Regions from separate parts of the Homo sapiens genome. Here region 1 is linked to region 2. Evidence: fine-mapped expression QTL. A gene starts in region 2. The other region holds a variant in brackets. All regions are shown on one strand. Distances are between the middles of the regions. Region 1 overlaps CALCRL (calcitonin receptor like receptor). Region 2 holds the start of CALCRL (calcitonin receptor like receptor).

Region 1 (11,359 bases), 98 kb after region 2:
TCAGACTCTTTTTAAATACAGATATTCTATTATTTAACTATATTTGCTAGCTGCAGTTTAGTATATGGTTGCGTTGGATCACTGTTCAAACCATTCTCAAAATGTATCATTGTTAAGCCATTCTTATAGAATTTATTATGACTTTCATAACATTTTTTGATATACCTTAATGTAGATTATAGTGAAAATTTCAAAGGCAGAGGCACTTGCCTCCCTTCCTTCTCCTACATTCTAAGGGCATGAGTGACATACTGTGTTTAAGTTGTACCCTGAGACTGCCTGGCTTTGCATTGTGTGCATAAAAGAGTCAGCACTGAATCCTGGCTCTACCACAGCTGCCTGTGTATCATCTCAGAGCAAGTTTTCTGTTTTATTTTGTTTTTAACCTCTCTGTGTCTTTGTTTTCTCATCTGTAATGATGGAATAATAAGAATATATACCTCACAGGGTATTATAAGGATTAAATGAGATGCTTTCTGTTAAGTGATCTGGCACAGTTAGTGCATAGAATATTATAAATTCTTGAAAAAATGCCTTCCAAGTTTCCTCACTTGTAGTTTCTGCATGATACCATGCTTCTACTCTGAGGAGAGCTTGAAGAAATTATAATATATCGTTTGGGCTACCCAGGAGATTCCAGAACAAATGCAAGACAATATTTTATTACAAAAGATCTGGCTGCACAGAGGGGTACATGATTCAGACTTCTAAATCAGTAAGGTTCAGGAAGTGAAAGCACCTAGCAAATGCAAAATGTAACGTCATCTACACTATCCTTGGAAACATCTGTTCATGTAAACTTTAAGGAAGAAGAGTAAGGATGAAATACAGGAATATAGCCCATCAAGCTGGTCAGTAAGAAAAGAAGCGAAAATCCACATTATTTGCCTAAAACTTTCCCATCTTGTTGGCCTAAAACAAGATTAGGAACCTATTTTTCTGTCCGGATAAATCATTCTGTCCTTGTTTAAGCTCCAGAGCTCCTTCTTGGTCCTGGCCAATTCCAAGCTCCTCAGAAGAGCCCTAGTAATTGTTCTCATGGTTATCATATGTTTTTGCACAATTTTTATAAATAAGATATTTTAATCACAAGTCATTCCACTCAGACTTCCTCCATCACATTTCCATGTGAGCAGGGTGGTACTGGAGTGACTACAGCATTTTTGAGATCCTGTTGAGGGGAAGTTGAGAGATGATACATTTAATTTGGGTTCAGTGACAGATATTTAGGTGACTTCAGTGCATAGTTAAGTGATTGTCTGGGAATGACTTCCAGAAACTGTCCTACAGCCACTGTATAGATTTACCCCAGTTCCTGTCATGACCCAAGCGTGGTACTGTGATATCAAAATAGCCTGATGGGCCTACTAGCTATGTAAACTTTATGAGTATGTCAGTTAAAGGTTTCTTCTTTTCTACTGAACTAGTTTTGCTCAAGGGTGGGTGAAATTCAGACATAGTTCTTCTAAAATTTAAAATTCTTCTTTTATTTTTGCTTATAGTAAATGGAAATATTTACAGAAAATAAAGTAAGATGAAGGGATTATAATTCTCAAAACTATGTTGTGTGGAAAAATAGCATCCAATTCATTCTAAGACAATTATTTATAAAATAGCTAATAGAATAAACTCTATTGTCAACTCTAGTTTCTAGTTTCACATTTTAAATCAGACTTCCCATGTGGAGAAGCACTTTGCATTTAAAAATTTTCATATAATTGGGATCATCTAAATTGCAATGTTTCTACTGTCTTTTTATAGTTTATGATTTAATGTATTAAGATTATAAAATATTTGATATTAAGCAGATAAAAGAGCATTATTATCTTTTTTTAAAGAGCAATGGATGCTTAAGAAGGGAATATATTAGGATGAGTGGAATAACAGCTGACATGTTGATTTGTCACATTTCATTCTCACACCTGTTGAAATGGCTTATTCTGCTTTTGCCTTTATCGTATTTCTGTGTCTGCAAACATTGCTTTTCATAGATGTGTTTCCATTAGGATTTTAGTGAGCTGTATATTTTTGAAGCATATGTTCTATTAAATTTTCTAAAAATAGTGGTAGAATATTTTTGTGCCCAGTTATTTTTATGACACATGTGTCCATTTAGCAAATGCAGGCTCTCTGTTAATTCTTTTCTATAATAAATGGGAAACTACTATTTTTTGCAATTTTTAAACTGTGTGGATATAAATTATATTTGGTGCATAGATTGAAAATTTAAGATTATTAAACAAAGGGCAGATGCCAGAACTAAGGGTGAGGAAAAAGAAAAGAGAATAGCAATTAGCCCCTATGGAGCTCTTCTGGAATTAATATTCATGATTCTATGGAAGGCATAAGGAATGGGCATAGAGAAAATGGACCAAAGTAAAAGATATTGACTGGGTGAAAATAAGAAAGAGATAAACTCTAACTTGGGTGAAAATAAGAGAAAGATAAACTTGTATTATGCGAGAGAAAGAGAAATAAATATGTTTCAGTAGGACCCTGTTTGCTGAGTCACATTAGAGTGTCAAAGGTTTATGTCTCCCATCCAAAGAAACTACTGTCTCTTCGAGAAAGTTGTTGAGGCACAAAAATAGTGAATATTATGTCATTGCAGACAGTAATTAACAGGAAGTCTTATAGAATGTCAAATTATTTTAGCTCTAGAATGACTGGGGTTGAATATCAGCTGGTTCAAAGTTCCCTCATAAGTAAAAGAGGATTACAGTGATACTTTGGAGAGGTGTTGTAAAGATTATTGTTACTAGAAGAAACAGGAAAGTTTTTGGTTTGAAAGATGAAAATGGTTATTATGGTATAATATACATTTAGAAAGTATGTCATATGGACATGATAAAGAGGGGATGCTTTAAAAATTAGCATTTTTCCATAAACAATTATTTTCTTTGATATGAAAATGTTCAAAATCTTTAGTTTTTAGACCACAGATTTTTTTAATTGCACGTGAAAATGAGCTGAGAAAAACTGAAATATTCTTCAACTGAATATGTTCCACAGTAATTATACCATAATTTAATTTTACTTTTTTAAAACTTGTTTATTAAAATTGATGTACTTGTTAAATTGATAAATCACAATTCCAGAAATATAAATTAATGCCTTAGGCAATAATACCCTTTAAAAATATTCTTGTACATTAAAAATATTTTAAGATTTATAAAATTGGAGATACTTGAATAATGCTTCTTAATATTAAATATGAAATGATTTTCAGATGCCATTTAATTTCGTTTTTAGGTGAATCTTTTTTTCTTGTTAAATATTGTACGCGTTCTCATCACCAAGTTAAAAGTTACACACCAAGCGGAATCCAATCTGTACATGAAAGCTGTGAGAGCTACTCTTATCTTGGTGCCATTGCTTGGCATTGAATTTGTGCTGATTCCATGGCGACCTGAAGGAAAGATTGCAGAGGAGGTATATGACTACATCATGCACATCCTTATGCACTTCCAGGTATGGCATTCTTGATAAGAAGGCAGCTTGAGAAGTTTGGAATTAAATATACATATAGCTTTGGTTTACTCCTGACTACTTGTACAGCTATTTGATTACAAATACATGTATCTTTCCATTTGGATTCAGATCATTCTATTTTTCTTTTACAGGGTCTTTTGGTCTCTACCATTTTCTGCTTCTTTAATGGAGAGGTATGATAATTGATTTTATTCCTTCTATTATTTTATATTTGCTATCTGTCTATCTATCCATGTATTTAAATGAGATAAAATTATAAATTCCCCAGGAACAACCATGTTAAATTCTGTTTCCATCAGGGAAAGAACCATAGAATCTCTTACCATAGGTTTAACTCTCCTTCTCAAATGCTCAGGTCATATTGGAGTTCAAAGCCAGGGAAAAGTCAACCTCACTTAAAAATATTTCAAATGCTATTCATCTAATCTTTTGAGATACCTTTGAGTCCCATTAAGTCTGAGCTTTTCCCCAGATACAGTGCCAGGCAATCCCAAATCTCATAGAACATACACTCTAATAGGAAATAAGAAATAGGATCATCTCATTTTCCCTCTTTCTCTTTTTTGCCTGTCTTACAATGTAGCCTATGGAAACAACTTTATGGCAAATACGAAAGGATTTTAAAAATTAAACTCTTGGTTATACAGGGAAGAAATTCAATGGGTTAGGAAATTTAGAAGAGAATGCTCTAATTCATAACATGACCATGTACTCTTCAGTACTTCTAGATTTTTATCCATGCGTTTCCTACTTGGGAAGTTTCAGGCATTTTGAAAGCTGGTAACATATTTCTTTTTTTTTTTTTTTTGAGACGGAGTCCCGCTGTTTAGCCCAGGCCGGATTGCAGTGGCGCAATCTCGGCTCACTGCAAGCTCCGCCTCCCAGGTTCACGCCATTCTCCTGCCTCAGCCTCCCGAGTAGCTGGGACTACAGGCGCCCGCCACCGCGCCCGGCTAATTTTTTGTATTTTTAGTAGAGACGGGGTTTCACCGTGTTAGCCAAGATGGTCTCGATCTCCTGACCTTGTGATCCGCCCGCCTCGGCCTCCCAAAGTGCTGGGATTACAGGCGTGAGCCACCGCGCCCAGCCAACATATTTCTTATGCATACAAATGTGTTATAGCTCAGTAATCTGAGCTCTATTGACTTAGCTCTTTATATGTTTTTAATCTGCTCGACACAATTTAACCTGTAGGAGGATTTTGGCAAAATTGAACAAAGTTTAGAAATCCAGACAGCAGCTGAGTGAGACACAGACACTTGATAATGTGAAGCTTATCATAAAGCTTCAGATGGGGAACACATGGGACCAGTTGGTATAACCTATGACAACCATTCCTATAAAACAAATGAACATTGGAAATCATGCACACATCATGAAAAACTATAACATGTTATTTGCGCTTGCTTAAGTAATATTTTTACTTCCTCATCTTGACATATAATAAAACTCAATGTTTAGTTTTTAATTAAAATATATCTCAAGTTCAACACGTATTTATTTATATTATTATTATTTATCTATATTTATTTATTTGTAATGAGGTGTAGAGTTGCCACACATTGTAGACTATATTTCATACATTTAAGTGGTACTTCCATAATTCTTCTGCTATACAGAAGACAAGAGCAACTTTTTCTGAAATCAGAGAAGCATAGACAGAATGCAGTTACAAAAAATAGATAAATCATTTGTTTGATAGTAAAATTCAAATAGATTTTATTATATACCTCTATAAATTTAATGTTATATACACTGAATTAGACAACCCTAAATGCTACTTGTATAGGATGTAATAATTAAATATAGATGAGAGTGATATGGACAACATGCTAAAGAACATGCATGAAATAGGAAAGGTAGACCTCTGTATCTACAGAAACAGATTTTAATTCCATGAACTAATTTTTAAATATTCAAAACACACTCACTAGTAAAATATTTTGTAACAGGAGGCAGTGTAGAATAAACACAGCAATGCATTTAATCACCAAAGATGCTACTTTTCATCTTGGCTGTGATATTTTGGCAAATGCTGGCAAATTTCAGGAGCCTGTGTCTATCTTTCTTAAAGGGAAATTAAAGCAAGTTCTCTACACAGGTCTCAGAAAAATAAATACAAGCTAAGAAAGATAAAGTTTTTAGCACCATGCCCCACTTCATGAGATTCTCAGTATACTTATTATTTGATTTGTCAAATCACTTATTTTCAAAAACACATGTGCCAACAGGAACATTAATCATTTTGGATCAAAATCCCAAATTGGCTCTTTTATTTAGAAAGAGTGCCCAGGGAATATCTAAAGTAATGCCTAACACTCCTGTTACACTCGATCTGTGTAAACAAAAGGGACACAGAACCTTGATCTTCTGCCATGTCCTAAAATTGAGAAAATTTTGACATTGGAAAATTACAATAATACACAATGTTTGAGCTAGGTTGTT[C/G]CCAAATCTTTCAGTTCCTCACAACATTTCTAATATCTGTTCCTTTTCTTCATCTCTGGAGATACAATCCCTGTTTCAGTATGATTCATTTCTCTTCTTAAGAAATACTGTGATCCCTCCCTTTTTGTCTCAATGCCTCTTACTTTTTCCCACTCTCATAACATGAAGAAACAACTGCCAAATTCATTTTGTTCCAACTATGTCATGTACTTCTTAAAATCATTTGCTCAGGCTTAGTTTCCTTCTTGTTTTCCACATTAGGTCAAATGCCTGCCTTTAGCTTAATATTTGTGTTTTTTTCTTTCCCACCTTTTATGCACTTTTTAGCTAACGTCTTGCTATTAGCATTTCTCACTAGTTAAATAAATGTGGCTTGACAAGTGCTTGGATTACTTTCATTTTATCCCTAGTGCCCTCAGACAAAAATGTGCACTGTGATCATAAACTAGGGACTCTAGTCATCAGAAGGTTATATTTAACAACACCTGAGGGTAGATATTCCATAAGATGAGCAAAAAGTTTTGTTGAGGACAGACAATTAAACCCAAATTCTTTCATGAGAACTACGTAGAATTTTTATAAAAGTTTCGTAAATATTTTAAATTGATTCCCATTAAGGAGTATAAAGTTAGTTCCTTATTGGGTGTTAATGGGTATATAAAGTTGTAATGTTACATTCTAAACATTTGCCTTACTACTTATACATGGTCATGCATAAAACAATAAAAACATTCATATCTTTAATAACACCCAGCTATCTTCCCTTACAATGGAAATTTGCTCCTACTGATTTTTTCTCATTAAAAGTTTATTAAGAGTAGCTGCTTTAATGTCGTATTTAACAGGTGTGATATTGTATTAGAGGAAGCAGAAGAAAAATGTAACATCCTTAGAGCAAATAACATAAACAAACAAGTCTACAAGGCCTGTGGATCTTTAATTAGGTTTATTTTTAACTATAGTAAGACCTCACAGTTCATGAAATTGGCTTTCTATGGTTTTTCTGATGATTTAGTTGCAAGGAAGAAATAGAGTGATGACCTTAATCAAAGTAGATATTTTAAGAGCAAACAGTCATATATTTCAATAGCCATTTTCCTTCCAAATTGAATTTAAGCTTTCCTTTTTAAGACTATAAGTACTAGACTCACAGCTAAGATATTACTTCCTCTCAGCTTTTTCTCATACTTTATATAGAATTTTTTATACAAAGCTATATGCCACTTCCCCTCAACCAGAAACTATATTGATTACATACTCAACCAATTCAGCATTTAGTAACAAAATTAGGAGAAGTTTATGAAACAAAAAATAAGGATCAAAAATATTTCTCATCAGATGTATCTAGATAATTGGTCAATGGTCATTTTTATTTTGAATCTCTGAATATGTATTTAAAATTCACAATCTGAAGCCATTCAATTTGTAGTTTGCTCATGATCTTGAGGTTGTTACATATGCAGATGTTATTTTTAAATTATCTGAATTTAGATATTTTATACGGAGGATTTAGAATTATATTACTAAATTGAGAGGAAAGTTTAATTTTTGCAAGATAAATAAATTTGTTGCCTTATAAATGCTTTTATTTTCAAAGCATATTTACATGAATATAAATTGTTTTCTTCAGATATGGTTACCATATATTTTTTAAATTGAGCTTGAAAGGGCTGAAGTTACTGAACTTCATCATAATGTAACTTTCAATACGAAGTTATTTCATTTTAATTATATAATTTTTGAACTATATAGTAGAGTGAAATTAACTGATAATTTTAATACCTCATTTAATTTTACCTAAACACATTGTTGGCTTTATATTTGCTCCTTCTTTTTTCCTACATGAAATGAGACAATAAAACTTTGAGTTTATTTTAAGTGACAGACTATAAGATACTTTAACAGGAACTCTGAAGTATCCTGTAAAGCTGCAGACATCCTGGAACACCTATTTTCTATAGAATGTTTGTAATTGGAGGAATTGAGGTTTTGTGTGTGTGTGTATGTGTGTGTGTGTGTGTTTTAATCCATTAGACTAGGAAATAACAAGAGAGAAGTAAGCCCTTTTTAAAGATTTAATATTGATTTGTATACATGGATATAGTGAAGAGAAAGTTGAGGAATTCTATATAAGTAGTAGAAAGTTAAACAATTATACCTCAGTACGTAGAAAATGAATTACCAGAAAATTGCTGTGAGATGCTCAGATTCCCTTTGGAAAAGCACTGAAAGAGCCAAAGAGCAATAGAGAGCTTGGGGAAGACCATTCAAAGCAAACCCACTCTGGGCAGATATAGATCGGGTCACAAGGATTTGGCTAACACATTCATAACCTAAAAGCAGGCTGCTCCAAGCCAGTGTGCTCACTCATCAGACATGGAAAAGTCCTCAACGTACTTGAGCTAGAGATGTATTTAAATGTTCTCATTTGTGCCCATTGACTGACAATGAAGAAAATTCACTCTTGTGCCTTACATTCCATTATGACCAATATTTTACTGTATAGGACCCACCTACCCCTGATCTCTAGCTTCAAACAGAGGGGAAGGAAGTCATTAAACTGCAAATTTATTCAGCAGAAGAGGATTCAAATATATAAAAATGGAGTGGTTACATTCCTAAATTTATTTTTCACAATATTCACCAGATTTATAATTATTTGTTCAACACTTTTCTTTCCTCTATGTAGTAAGCTCCATGAAGACAAATATCATGCTCCCTTTTTTAGAATGTAGCACAATTTCTGGCATATGGGAGTCACTCAGAAACAAAGGTTGCTGCTACTGCCCTGCTGCTGCTGCTGCTGATTTGTATTCTTCGTATCCTAACTTCTTTTCTTTTGTGTATCTTTCGCTTATCCTGTCACGAATTGTCTTCTCATTCTATTAATAAAGACATTAATATAAAACTCAATGTTGCACATGAAATCTTGTAAATGGGGGTCCAGATTACCTATTTGTTTGGCAACAATAAATACATATGAATTATAAAAGCTTTGAAGACAAAACATGCCATGAAAAATATTAATGGAATGTAAAGTACAATGTAATTGTAATACATTTCCTAATGTGAAGATGGTACACTTAATTTTTTAAATTAAGAAAATGAAGCTATATTATTCACTGATTAACATAACTTTTTTTAAAAAAGCTCTTCTCCAAGACCTATTTAATTGTGCTTCAAAAACAGTGTCTTCATTTCAATTAATGGGTTGTTCTTGTTCTTTCTGTTTTCCTTTTGATTGATAGGTTCAAGCAATTCTGAGAAGAAACTGGAATCAATACAAAATCCAATTTGGAAACAGCTTTTCCAACTCAGAAGCTCTTCGTAGTGCGTCTTACACAGTGTCAACAATCAGTGATGGTCCAGGTTATAGTCATGACTGTCCTAGTGAACACTTAAATGGAAAAAGCATCCATGATATTGAAAATGTTCTCTTAAAACCAGAAAATTTATATAATTGAAAATAGAAGGATGGTTGTCTCACTGTTTTGTGCTTCTCCTAACTCAAGGACTTGGACCCATGACTCTGTAGCCAGAAGACTTCAATATTAAATGACTTTTTGAATGTCATAAAGAAGAGCCTTCACATGAAATTAGTAGTGTGTTGATAAGAGTGTAACATCCAGCTCTATGTGGGAAAAAAGAAATCCTGGTTTGTAATGTTTGTCAGTAAATACTCCCACTATGCCTGATGTGACGCTACTAACCTGACATCACCAAGTGTGGAATTGGAGAAAAGCACAATCAACTTTTCTGAGCTGGTGTAAGCCAGTTCCAGCACACCATTGCATGAATTCACAAACAAATGGCTGTAAAACTAAACATACATGTTGGGCATGATTCTACCCTTATTGCCCCAAGAGACCTAGCTAAGGTCTATAAACATGAAGGGAAAATTAGCTTTTAGTTTTAAAACTCTTTATCCCATCTTGATTGGGGCAGTTGACTTTTTTTTTGCCCAGAGTGCCGTAGTCCTTTTTGTAACTACCCTCTCAAATGGACAATACCAGAAGTGAATTATCCCTGCTGGCTTTCTTTTCTCTATGAAAAGCAACTGAGTACAATTGTTATGATCTACTCATTTGCTGACACATCAGTTATATCTTGTGGCATATCCATTGTGGAAACTGGATGAACAGGATGTATAATATGCAATCCTACTTCTATATCATTAGGAAAACATCTTAGTTGATGCTACAAAACACCTTGTCAACCTCTTCCTGTCTTACCAAACAGTGGGAGGGAATTCCTAGCTGTAAATATAAATTTTGTCCCTTCCATTTCTACTGTATAAACAAATTAGCAATCATTTTATATAAAGAAAATCAATGAAGGATTTCTTATTTTCTTGGAATTTTGTAAAAAGAAATTGTGAAAAATGAGCTTGTAAATACTCCATTATTTTATTTTATAGTCTCAAATCAAATACATACAACCTATGTAATTTTTAAAGCAAATATATAATGCAACAATGTGTGTATGTTAATATCTGATACTGTATCTGGGCTGATTTTTTAAATAAAATAGAGTCTGGAATGCTATATTTGGTAAATATTTTAAAGACAACCAGATGCCAGCATCAGAAGTCTGTTTGAGAACTAAGAGAACAGAAACATCTATCATAAGATATATTTATTTTAAAAACACAAGGTCACTATTTTATTGAATATATTTGTTTTGATAACTCATACCTTAATAATAGGTGTGTTTGACATATTTCTTTTTTCATTTTGACAATGAACTCACATTCTAATCCAGAAATTTTAAACAACTACTGTGATAAATACCAATCTGCTACTTTTATAGATTTTACCCCATTAAAATATTACTTTACTGACTTTTACTATGTGAAGATATATAGCTTTGGAAATGTCCCAGGCTATTCAAGAAATATAAAAAACTAGAAGGATACTATATATACCATATACAATGCTTTAATATTTTAATAGAGCTACTGTATATAATACAAATTAGGGAAATACTTGAATATATCATTGAGAAAAAATTATTGTCAGATCTTACTGAATTATTGTCAGACTTTATTAAATAAAGATAGAAGAAAACCTTGCTAATGAATTAAAGTGAAATTTGCATGGGATTCAGTTTCTCTAATGTTATTTTCCGCTGAAATCTCTAAAGAACAAGAATGACTTCAATTAGTAAAAGTCAATTTTGGGAAAAGTCATGGGTATCTGTTTTTTAAGTGTGTCAATCTGATTAAAATGGATGAAACAAATTACTCATCATAAGTTGTTTCTTAAGCTGTCAATATGTCAATAGATGGTGAGTTCAGAACTTATTTCAAATTGCTAAGACAAATTATCTAAATTCGTAAGAATTAACATATAGAATGGTCTGGTCAGTACATTTATAATTTATCTATGCATGAAAAAGTATTGTTTTGTTTGAAACATGAATT
Region 2 (11,359 bases):
TATGGGCTTTAATTTGTATAGTCTACATTAAGTACCTGCCCCTTGTAACTATATTTATCAAGTACATAGACTGTTTTCTTAGAAATATTCCCTAGTTGTTGAGATTTTTTTCATTAGAGAAAAAGCAATAGAATTTCATTTTTATTCTGGTCAGAGAACAACTTTTTGTAATTTGAGAATGTCTAACACTAGATGGCAGGATGACACTATAGATTCCTCAAAACTGTAAAAAGAAAGATGTGACACTTTCTCAAAGGTGTTAAGGGTTCCTAGGCAAATCCATCATACATTTCAATATATGCATTACATACAGTTCCATAGTCATTAATGTTTAAAGTCTCACTGTATGTTATTGACTAACATTAAATATGAATAAGCTTTTAAAGAAAATAAAAATATAAGTTGCTAATGTTTTTACAAGTTATATAAATATGATGATAGCTGAAGAAAATAGTTCGTTATAACTGGAAAGACATGAATACTATTTGGCATCTTTAGAACTTAATGATTAAATTATTTATGTAAAATATAGGGATTGGTCATTTAATCAAATACTACTTAAGTCGAAATGCCTAAATACAAATATAAATAAACCTTTTATTTTCACAATCAAGATTGATATTTAGCAAATAAGAGGCATTTCAGAATAAATCCACATTAAATGCATATCCAGAATTAAAAAGGGCATCTTTTTTGATGCTAACTAAAACCATCCTAGAAATAGTAAGAACTATTTTAAACTCTTCTGGAAAGAAGATTTGGGTTTCCCAAATAAATTACTCACACACTCTTAGTATTTATGTGCTACTTGTCATTGCTCTATTGATAAGTATGGCTAAGTTCACCATATACTGAATAATATTTTTTTCTTCAAACCAGAGCATTTTTGAGCCTGAAATTATGAATTGGGACTGCCCCAGAAAACTAGGACATATGATCACTCTATTGAAGGTATTTCCCCTCAGAAAGTTCATTGTGTACTCCCATTTAAAGTAAGCATTTATAATTTTGTTGGATTTAAAAATCCATTTGAATTAGTCCATGACATAGCTCACTAGCCAGTACTAGCACTTTATTCTAGCAATAGCCACCCCTCCAACACTCATGAATATCTGTAAGAAAATACTAAGTTCGCAGGAAGATCTAAATCCATCAGGATATAAGAATTTTTAAAATAGGCAAATGTTTGGCCAATTATTTTTTATGTTACTTGGCTTTCTTGAGAAAATACATTATTAAATACTGAAAGAAACTCTACATATAGGCTATAAAATAGTTTTATTTATCTGTATATTAACCTGGTATACATTTCTGTATATCTGACCTGATATATATACTGTTCATTTCAAACATAGTTTTCTGCACCTTCCAAATTCTTATTCATAGTAACTATTTTTAAAATAATATTGTAATCTTCTTTAAAATGATAGCTATGTGCCCAATTAAAGTGAAAAACGGCCCTTTGGTTTTAGTAATAGATAATAGCATATTCACTCTCATGTCCCAGACATTGTACCCAGATTCTTTTACTAAATGCAATTTATTTTTGTTTTGAAAAGCAACTTGAAAAGTGCTAACAGCAATTGCTAGGTAAAATAATAAAAGGTTGGGTCAACTTATTTCCTTGCTAGAAGTAGTTTTTTAATGTAAAGCTTTTAAACATATAAGCTTCTGATGTAAAGTTTATGTGTTTCTCCTCAAATTATTGGTGCATTTATCATAAGGCAAGTTATATATAATATTGCTGACTGCATAAATTATCACCAAGTATAAGTAATTGCTTTCAGACAATTAAGAACACAGAAGAATTATTAACATAAAATAATAACTTTTAAAACTTCAGAATAATTATTTTAAAAGTCTTTCTTTTGACTTGTTCTTGCACTCTCACTAGGGAAAGTCTGTCCTTAATATATTTCCTGTAAAAGTGTTCTGCTTTATTTTGTTTGTTCTTGTGGCAAGAATTATGCTCCAAGGCAGTATCCATACAAATTCAAAATAAGTGGTCAGTTTGGTCAGTAGAAAATTAAATTTGTCAAACCACATTTTGGTCTGGTTTAACTAACATATTCAATATAAACAGTAGCCCAGAAACTTGGAGTTAGCCTACTCCTAATTTTGAGTCAACTTGCATTTGACATAGTAACTAGTATCCCCTATTGGAAGAAAAGGTCGCTTGTGAGCCTTATGTGTGAGCACAAATAAAAGCACAAATCCTGCATGTAGGATGCTAAAATGAAAATGTGTGACTGTCCATCATTACATGTATATATTTCTACACTTATACACCACTCCTCACTTCTACAGAAAACCTTATTGCAGTGCTCTGCATCATTACCTCTAGATTCTATGTTAGCAGCATCAGTTGCTAATTTCACAGAATTTGGCCCTTGACTTCTCATGTGCTAGTCAATCTGTTCATTAAAGGACTAGATAGCAGGGAACATTCTATTTTTACTTATCTCACTAAAACACAGTTAGCACATTACCTAGCTCAAAATACAAATTTGGTCACTACTAATTAAATTATTGCAAGTGGCTTTAATGTCTTCTGAAGAAAGATTATAATATATAAATCCATATAATGCCACGTTGGCTCAAAATTGCTTCATTGATTATTGAAATGTTTTCATTTAGCTCTGCTACAGTTTTCCAAACATTTGCCTTCATGTTTCAGTAGGTATTAGAGAAGTTTTTATGATCTATCTTATCACTTGCTCCTACATAACTTAGAATACCCTGAATGCCTTCCTGGAAGTCCTTGTACCATTTATTTTTTCTGAAGTTTATAAAATGGCAGCTCTTGAGGATTACTAGGATGCAATTTTCCTGTTATGTCTAAATAAGAATTAAAGATGATATTAATAAAATTTATCAAGGAGTCTTCATGGACTACAGCCATGGGCCCATGTGTACGTCAACTTAAATATAAATGATACAACTTCTACTAGACACCCCATAAAGTATAGCACTTGATAGAGAGTAGAAGAGAAAGAGCATTGGATTAAGGGTCTTATGACATGAGCTCAAAACATGAATTTTTTTCCTTCAGTAGACCTTACTAGTATTGGGCAAATGAAATCAATGAATCTCACCAGGCGCAGGGGCTCATGTCTGTAATCCCAGCACTTTGGGAGACCAAGGTGGGCGGGTCACCTTAGGTCAGGAGTTTCAGACCAGTCTGGCCAACATAGTGAAACCCTGTCTCTACAAAAAAATACAAAATGTTAGCTGGGTGTGGTGGCGGGCGCCTGTAATCCCAGCTACTTGGGAGGTTGAGGCAGGAGAATTGCTTGAACCCGGGAGGTGGAGGTTGCAGTGAGCTGAGATTGCGTCATTGCACTCCAGCCTGTGCAACAAGAGCAAAAACTCCATCAAGAAAGAAAGAAGGAAGGAAGGAAGGAAGGAAAGAAAGAAAAATGAATCTTTGGAAAGACGAAAATATCAATGCTTTTATAAACATATTGGGAAAAGTTTTAGTTTTCCATGATTTAATTAAATTCAAAAACTATATATTAATCTCTTTATAGGATTCATATATTACACTTAGCATGGAAGATGAGAAGACATGACCCATTATTACTTTCATATTAAATCTAGTATTTGTTTTTCTCTGAATTTCAAGATGGGAACATGAAGCCTAAAAAGCTTTGTCAAGATCACACCAGACAGTATCAGAACCGGTTCACCAGTGTAACTCAGTTTCTTACAAGTCTTTTCTATTAACCATAATTATAGAGATGAAAGTATATCTATTTTTTATATGTCTGTATTTTGTAATCAATATTGATCTCACTGGTCTTAAAATCAAAGATTGTATAAACATTTTCTTCCACTAATTCAGACAATAAAAATGTCAACATGAGCACCCTGCTTTAAAAACATGATATTCCTGAATTTATTTTGCCTTTACCTCCTTTGTCTGCCTACAAGGTGTATGGCACCTCATTTTATCCTGGAATTGCACTAACAATTTACTAAGAGTTGAATGATCCTCACCGTATCTTATCTATTTCAAAATGTTATGAAATTTGTCGATTCAAAGCCTTAGACATAAAATCTATCTCTTCTAGTTTATAGATGAGAAAATTTATGCCCTGATAAATTAAGTGACTTTTAGTGCTGTTTAGGTTATAGGGATTATAATTATTGCTTCATATCGAACATTTACCAAATTATAAAAATGATAAAAGCATTTTAAATTTACATTTTCCCCTGATCATATCCAATGATGTATTAAACATATTCAGGAAAAACTATGCTTTGAGATGAAATTTTGTCTAAGAAATAAAGTATCCTTTGTATTTATATTATTTTATAATATTATGTTTACAACATCTATATTTTCTTTAAGATTATATTGACTTACAAATATTGTGGTATAAATTATTTTATATTATAAATAACATAATTATACCAAATATTTTTAAATGTGTGCAATAATTTTAAAATTATGAATTATTCAAAAGGCTATTTTGTCAAATATATATACTTATATATTATAAAAGAAACACTCTATACACACACATACACAACCTGAATTTATAACACATACACTCATGTTCTTATGAAGAAGGTAAAGGAAAAAATAAAAGATTTAAAAACTGCAGGATAAAGTTTCTTGATCTAATTAACTGATTAGGAACTGCACTTAGGAACTGATGGAGGAACAGCACCCAATTAGCAGAGCTCCAAATTAAGAAGAGCCAAATCACAAAACCAGTTATGATGAATACAGTTAATTTTTTTTTCTGTGTTGTGCTATGAACACAGATTTGTTAGATTTTTTTTCCTGGATACTTTGTAAGCTATAATTCAACACACACACACACACACACACACACACACACACACACACGCCTAACTCCTTTGATTCTTTGAGCAGAATACTATATTCAGATTTCCTTCAAATCACAAGTAGCTTGTTTGGCAAGTTCTAACAGAACTCAGTCAAGGTGAAAGCCAGCCAGCTTTTTACTGGTAACAATGTATTCACACAGCCTATGATCTCTCTCTGTTCAGGCTGCTTCTTGCTCTTGTCTCACAATAAGAAAGGAGTGCTGCTTTCCTGGGGTATGCTATTTGAGAAAGAAAGTAACCTAACACTAACTGCAGGCGGGGTCAGAGTGATGTAACAGGAAGCTCTGATGTTTCCCTTCTGCTGCTGATCACTTACAATCTGACAACACTTACAATCTACTCAGAACAACCTCTCTCTCTCCAGCAGAGAGTGTCACCTCCTGCTTTAGGACCATCAAGCTCTGCTAACTGAATCTCATCCTAATTGCAGGATCACATTGCAAAGCTTTCACTCTTTCCCACCTTGCTTGTGGGTAAATCTCTTCTGCGGAATCTCAGAAAGTAAAGTTCCATCCTGAGAATATTTCACAAAGAATTTCCTTAAGAGCTGGACTGGGTAAGTGCACATTCAAAATAAATATATTTATTCTAAGTAGTATTCTCATATAGTTTGGCAATGTTTCTATTATAGAATTTAGTAGATAGCACTGAAATAATGTTGAAACATAGTCTCACTTATTTCACATGCTAGAGAAAATACAGCCTACTACCCCAACATGAATACAAAATCTAATACTACTAGATAATATTGTTTACCATGGTATTCTAGAAAATAAATTTAGCAAGTATTAAAAATCTAAATGGATTAAAAGACATATTTCTGAACAAATACCTTAATCACAGAACAATGTCTTTTAAAATTAGCTCTAATATTAGCTAAGCTTGAATCTTGACAACTGGAAAACATTTCTCCCCCCGGAAGGGTCTTTAAACTTTCCATGTTATCAGCTGTAAGAAAGAGGTGAAAGAATAACTACTTAATGGGTCTCGGAGTCTCACTTACTCTGTGGTTGATCATAATGCAGAGTTTTGAAAAGTAATCACTTTGTATTTATTACATTTGCTTTTATTTGCCTTTCACCTTTATTTACACATATATCTGTAACTACTGAACTAATTTTTGTGTTCATTGTTGCCAGATGTGTTTAAATCTCTCTTCTGCTAACCCTGAACTGTTTGCTCTTTATTTGGATCATGGTGTCGGCTACAAAGAAAAAAAAAAACCTAGAGTTTAGGAAATGTAGATTTTTAAAACAATTCTTAATTTTGAAATCTTTAAGAGAATACTTCAACTTGACTGGTTCCCCTCTGCAAGCTTTTGGAGGGGGGTGTGATACCACGATATCTGTGGATAAAGAAACGTGACAGCTTTCCCAAAGAAGTATATTAGACGATTAAACAAAGAAATTAAAGTATTTATTAAAAAAGAATTTCCAGGATGGAACTTACTGAAATGTTGGATAAAACATCTGTTAATGCTCATTCCGATAGTACAGACTGTCCTGAACAATTTAAGAAACTAATGTCTGCTTAATAAATTGTTTGTGTAGATATATCACAAATTTGTTGCTGGAGAAAGTTTGATGTCAAATTTTAAATGATGTTGATAGATATGATTTTTAAGTTATATATTTTCTTACCTAAATGCAATTATACTTTCCAAGATGTCCTGCATTGGAAGCATCCTGTACTTAATCACTTATATCTGGCACATTAATAATAGACTACAAACATCCTGAGTAACTCCTCAGTAATTTACAACTCAATTTTTCCACAAATTCCTCAATATAATGAAAATTTAAATTAATTCTTAGATTTGTGATTCTTTAAGAGTATCATGGCTGATTTCTCTCTCTTTTCAATCTTCAGTTGTACTGAGTTCCCTGACACATGTGTAGAAATGGGAAAAGTGTTTTTAGAATGTGACTTTAGCCATTATATAAATGGGGGAGAAAGTGGAAACAACACATTTACTAACCCAATGACGTGGGTTAGTAACAAAAATTAAAACAACATTATTTTTAATTCAGATTATTTTCTTAGGAGGTATTATATTATGATCATATTTTATAATGAGAAACTCTCCAAACTTCCTTAATTTTTGTTTAATTGCTAGTCCCAAACCCATAATTTTCTTGTATAATTTGATTAAATTTTTATGAGTTTACTAACAGTATGGTTTATAATCTTTGTTTTCCAAAAATACTTTTGAAAAACACTAGGCGATGAACATTGAAGGTCATTAGCCAAAGGAAATATTTGAGGACATAACTGGAAGTTTGAAATAAAAATTCATATTATTGTATTCAAAATGTGCTTTCTTTAATGATAAGAAAATATCAGAATATCAATGCATGCTTTTAGCCATAAAGAAATGAATTTACTTTGCTAGAAGATGTTTCCTTGTAGCATCATAAAATCAATGCATTGAGCCTACAGTCAATGCTAAATATGTAAAATGAAACATAGAATTGAAATAGTATGTGAATAATGTGAGCTGAAATATGTTTTACCTGAAATATTCTATTTCTTAAAGAGATAATGTTTTTGATTATTGTTACAAGATTTTTTTTCTATCTTACATACCAAAGCATTATACTAAAAGTTAAAATATGTAGATTTTTATAATATATGAAACTGTTCATTCACTTTGAAAAATTGGAATAACAAAAACATTGTTTAAAATAATACTGGGTCTGTAATTTTAAAAATTATTTTAAATGAATGGGCAAGATTCATATGGTTTTCTCACTGGTGACTCCGAACATGTAATGAATTTTAAATGAAGACAATACTTAGCATATTTGTAAGAATATTTATGTTCACCTGCACATATTATACTATTTTTTCATGCATAACAGAAATAAAATTTCATAAAAAATTGAAAATAATATAAAGGTAAAATGATTACCTTGTTTGCTTTACAGATTAATGTGGACAAAGTATTTGATAAACACATAAACACTAACTGAATTTCAGTTAATAGCATCATTATATATTTCTAACTAGATCATATTTGGAAACATTGTAAAAATATTTTGCTACCAATTTTATCTACATGGCAAAAGTTTGATAGTAACTTAATTTTAAAAGATTGTTCTAGATCTTTATAGAAAAAATATAATAATCTTTAAAGGATCAAAAACTTATTCACTAAACAAAATTTATTTCATACTCTATATATGACTTTTAATACAGCTTTATCAAATAATTCTGGTTTTGGAGATATAATGATTACAGTATCGACTTTTCACAATACAAATATGTTCAAGAAATAGTATTTAAAATCTTTTGCTTTATTGCGTATCTTATGCTTGGCATTCAGAGAAGCTATTAAACCATAAACACAAGCGCTATCATTGCAAGGGTGTTAATGAAAGACGCTCTTATGAGAGTCAAGTGTGTAACGTATCTTAGTTTTGACTTAATCAGAATATTGGAGAATACGCTTAAGATAGACAAATGGTACACAGCTATTTAAAACATTTATCTGTATCTGGTTTTCAAATCCATGGGTAAACTATAAACATTCATAATTTCTCAGGTATGTTCTATTTTTCTGACAAAGTACATGTACCATACTGGATTACAAATTATTTCAAGACATCTTCTCGTTTAATATACAAAAATATTATGATGCAAATAGGTGGAAAATAAAAACTTACCAGAAATACAAGTCTACATTCTAACCAGATGGATCTATCCTTTTCCCATATATTCACATGGACCATGTAAATTAGATTAGGTCAATTAATCTCTGCATTTTTCCTTATTTGAATAATCTTAAAATCAAATTAATTTAATTATAATAAGCTATATTACAAAAAAGAGAAGAAATGTATTCAATTTTTAAGGACATAATAAGGTCTTACTTCTTCTTACAAAAATATAAAATAGTATCACTGCCTGTGAACTGAGTTAGGGTCTATGTTTCCTAGGTTACTAGAATTATTATCAGGTAATAAGTTGCAAATATTTTCCTAAAACACATTTCTTCCATTTTTTTCTTCAATTAGTTTGTTTACTTAAGAGACAGTATTATTCAAAACTAATACACCAAAATATTATTGTTTGCAAAAATGGCCCAAATAGTGTATTTACTTTTGAAATGTTAAGCAAGTTTTATTTTTTAATGTTTTCATGGTTTAAATTAAATGTGTTATACACCTTTTCCATTACTAAAAATTAAAAAGACAAAAATCCCAACCCAGTTCAATCTAGCATAAGCCAAAATGAATACATAAATAACCCCTATGGTATTGGGGCTATAGTTTTATATTTTATTAACACTGCTGGATGGAGCCCAATTTTCAGACAAATCTTATTTCCCTTAACATGGAACATATCTTTTTGAATTAAAAAGTGTTAATATGACATAAACTTTTGTATAAAACTGTAGTTATTTCTCTATTCAGGCTTAGGCTAACCTAAGCTCATTTATGTTTCTCATGAAATTATGGTGAATTTTGAGCATATCATTTGGTATGTTAAATTGCAATGATTTACTTACATAGCAACTAGATGGTTTATAAGTGCCCATCTCCTTACAGTGCAGTCACATGGAGGATCAATAGCATATTCGTGAGCACACAGGTTTGGTTTTATTAACCAAAATGAAGATAAATTTTTCTTGTATCCAACTACCAAATTCATAAATTTTACAAATGAGTGTTAATTTGAACCCGCATTCACTAATTAAACTGAGACCAATGATTACACAGATATTTTGCATATGCACCTCAATTTTGCCTTTCTTCCAAGGATAATTTGAAGGAAAAATAGAAACTTTGGTAAGTATCAGAGAGCAATAAATAACATTATAATAGACAAAGAGAGTTAAAACCATGGGAAAAGAATGTCATCAATACAAAACTGTGATTTTTATTTTGTACTTAGTAATGGAAACAATATTAGAGTAACATGTTTATTGTTTTATTAGTCAATGTGCATATGTCTTTAAAATTTTACTTTTAATGATGTATTTGTTTCTGTCTTTTCTACAAATATACCAATGTACTTTATAAATTAAGAAAAAATATGCATTTATTTTAGAAATTTAGGTATATGGTATTTATAGAAGTACACTGTGATGCGCTTTGGATTTAGATCATCCACATAAGAACCCAAAATTTACCACTTATTAGTTCCCCTTTCTCATCCATAAAGTGGAAGTGATAATCATATTGCTTTATAAGGTTTTGTAAGTAATCCATGAATTAACACGTGGAAATTTTTTAGCACTTGGCATTTAGTACATATTCAATAAATTTTCATGTTCACCTTAAGTCTGTTGTGAATGAGACTGAGGACATAATTTGTTTCTATGCAAAATTTTATTCCAAACAATCAACACCCATACGGATAAACAGAATGCAATCTATCTGTAAGACAGGAAGAGTGAACAAGTGTGATTTATAATTACAGTTGTTACAGTGACCATCCTTTTGCCATTATACAATACATGCCAGAACCTAATAAAATTGATATTGATAATTACTATCTCCATAGAACTTGAGCACTTTAAAATACCTGCATATTAACAATTTAAAAAGGTATATTAAACAAAAATTATTGCGTTTCTTTACATGTGAAACTCAGTGAAACCCAAAGTTGCACAATCCTCGTTGACAAAACTCTGGTTTTATCCTACATATATTATGAATCTACATCCTAAATATTTCATTATACTATTGTGTATTATCTATTATTAGACCTCTCATTACTGAAGTTGTGCAAAGTTGAATAGTGATATGATTCACCAAATCCAAACTGAATCTCTTCTAACACAAGATAATAAAAGTAAATTTATTTACACAAATTTGTTTGCTACTTGTGTGACTATACTACAGTAGAGATAAATGTAGACATCTGTCGGAAAATTTTAGTTTTGATTACTATAGCAGCTCCACAATCTCAAAATGAGAACATTAAGAAGGATCCAATAAATTCAGCTTTTAGGATTCCAAGTTGTTTTTGACCATTTTTTTTAAAGTTCTTATTATAGGAACTTATTACTGCCACCTAATGGAAGACACTTATATTTTCTTATTTATTATATTTCAAAAATACAAAGAAAGAGTGCCTGTGCAATAGGATGGCAAAAAAAATTTAGGTTTTGGCTTAACATAATTCATTTTAAGAATTTATCATTGAATATTTTATAAATTAAGACCCACATTGAGAATGTAATGAAACCAAAACCTTTTTTTCCATAAATTAAAAAAAAATACATTCAAAGGGATTCTCATTTTGCTTACAGTTGCATGAGTTTCATAGGATCTCCTTTTTGTTAGCTATGTTAAGAGTTCTTCAACTCTCAGTTTAAACACCCATGTTGCAGGTAATTCACGTGACAGTTACTCTTATAAAATAAGGTAAAATATATATATACGTATATGTATACATATATACACACATATATGTGTGCGTATATATGTGTGTGTATGTATGTGTGTGTGTATGTATGTATATGTATATGTGTGTGTATGTATATATATAT

The links.
Region 1: its variant is fine-mapped to the expression of CALCRL in whole blood (TOPMed, PIP above 0.99).

Annotation. Positions count from the first base shown.
Region 1 is chr2:187,344,226-187,355,584 of GRCh38, reverse strand. CALCRL (calcitonin receptor like receptor) reads left to right here. Exons shown (of 15, transcript NM_005795.6): 13 at 3,253-3,471; 14 at 3,624-3,665; 15 at 9,186-11,359. The coding sequence ends at 9,401. The region is part of intron 2 of CALCRL-AS1 (CALCRL and TFPI antisense RNA 1); the gene reads right to left. Among named protein-coding and RNA genes, the nearest start is that of CALCRL, 98 kb to the left of the region's middle. The variant C/G (reference allele first, on the strand shown) is at 5,938.
Region 2 is chr2:187,442,096-187,453,454 of GRCh38, reverse strand. It overlaps CALCRL (calcitonin receptor like receptor), which reads left to right and starts at 5,203. Exons shown (of 15, transcript NM_005795.6): 1 at 5,203-5,416. All of the region lies in intron 2 of CALCRL-AS1 (CALCRL and TFPI antisense RNA 1), which reads right to left.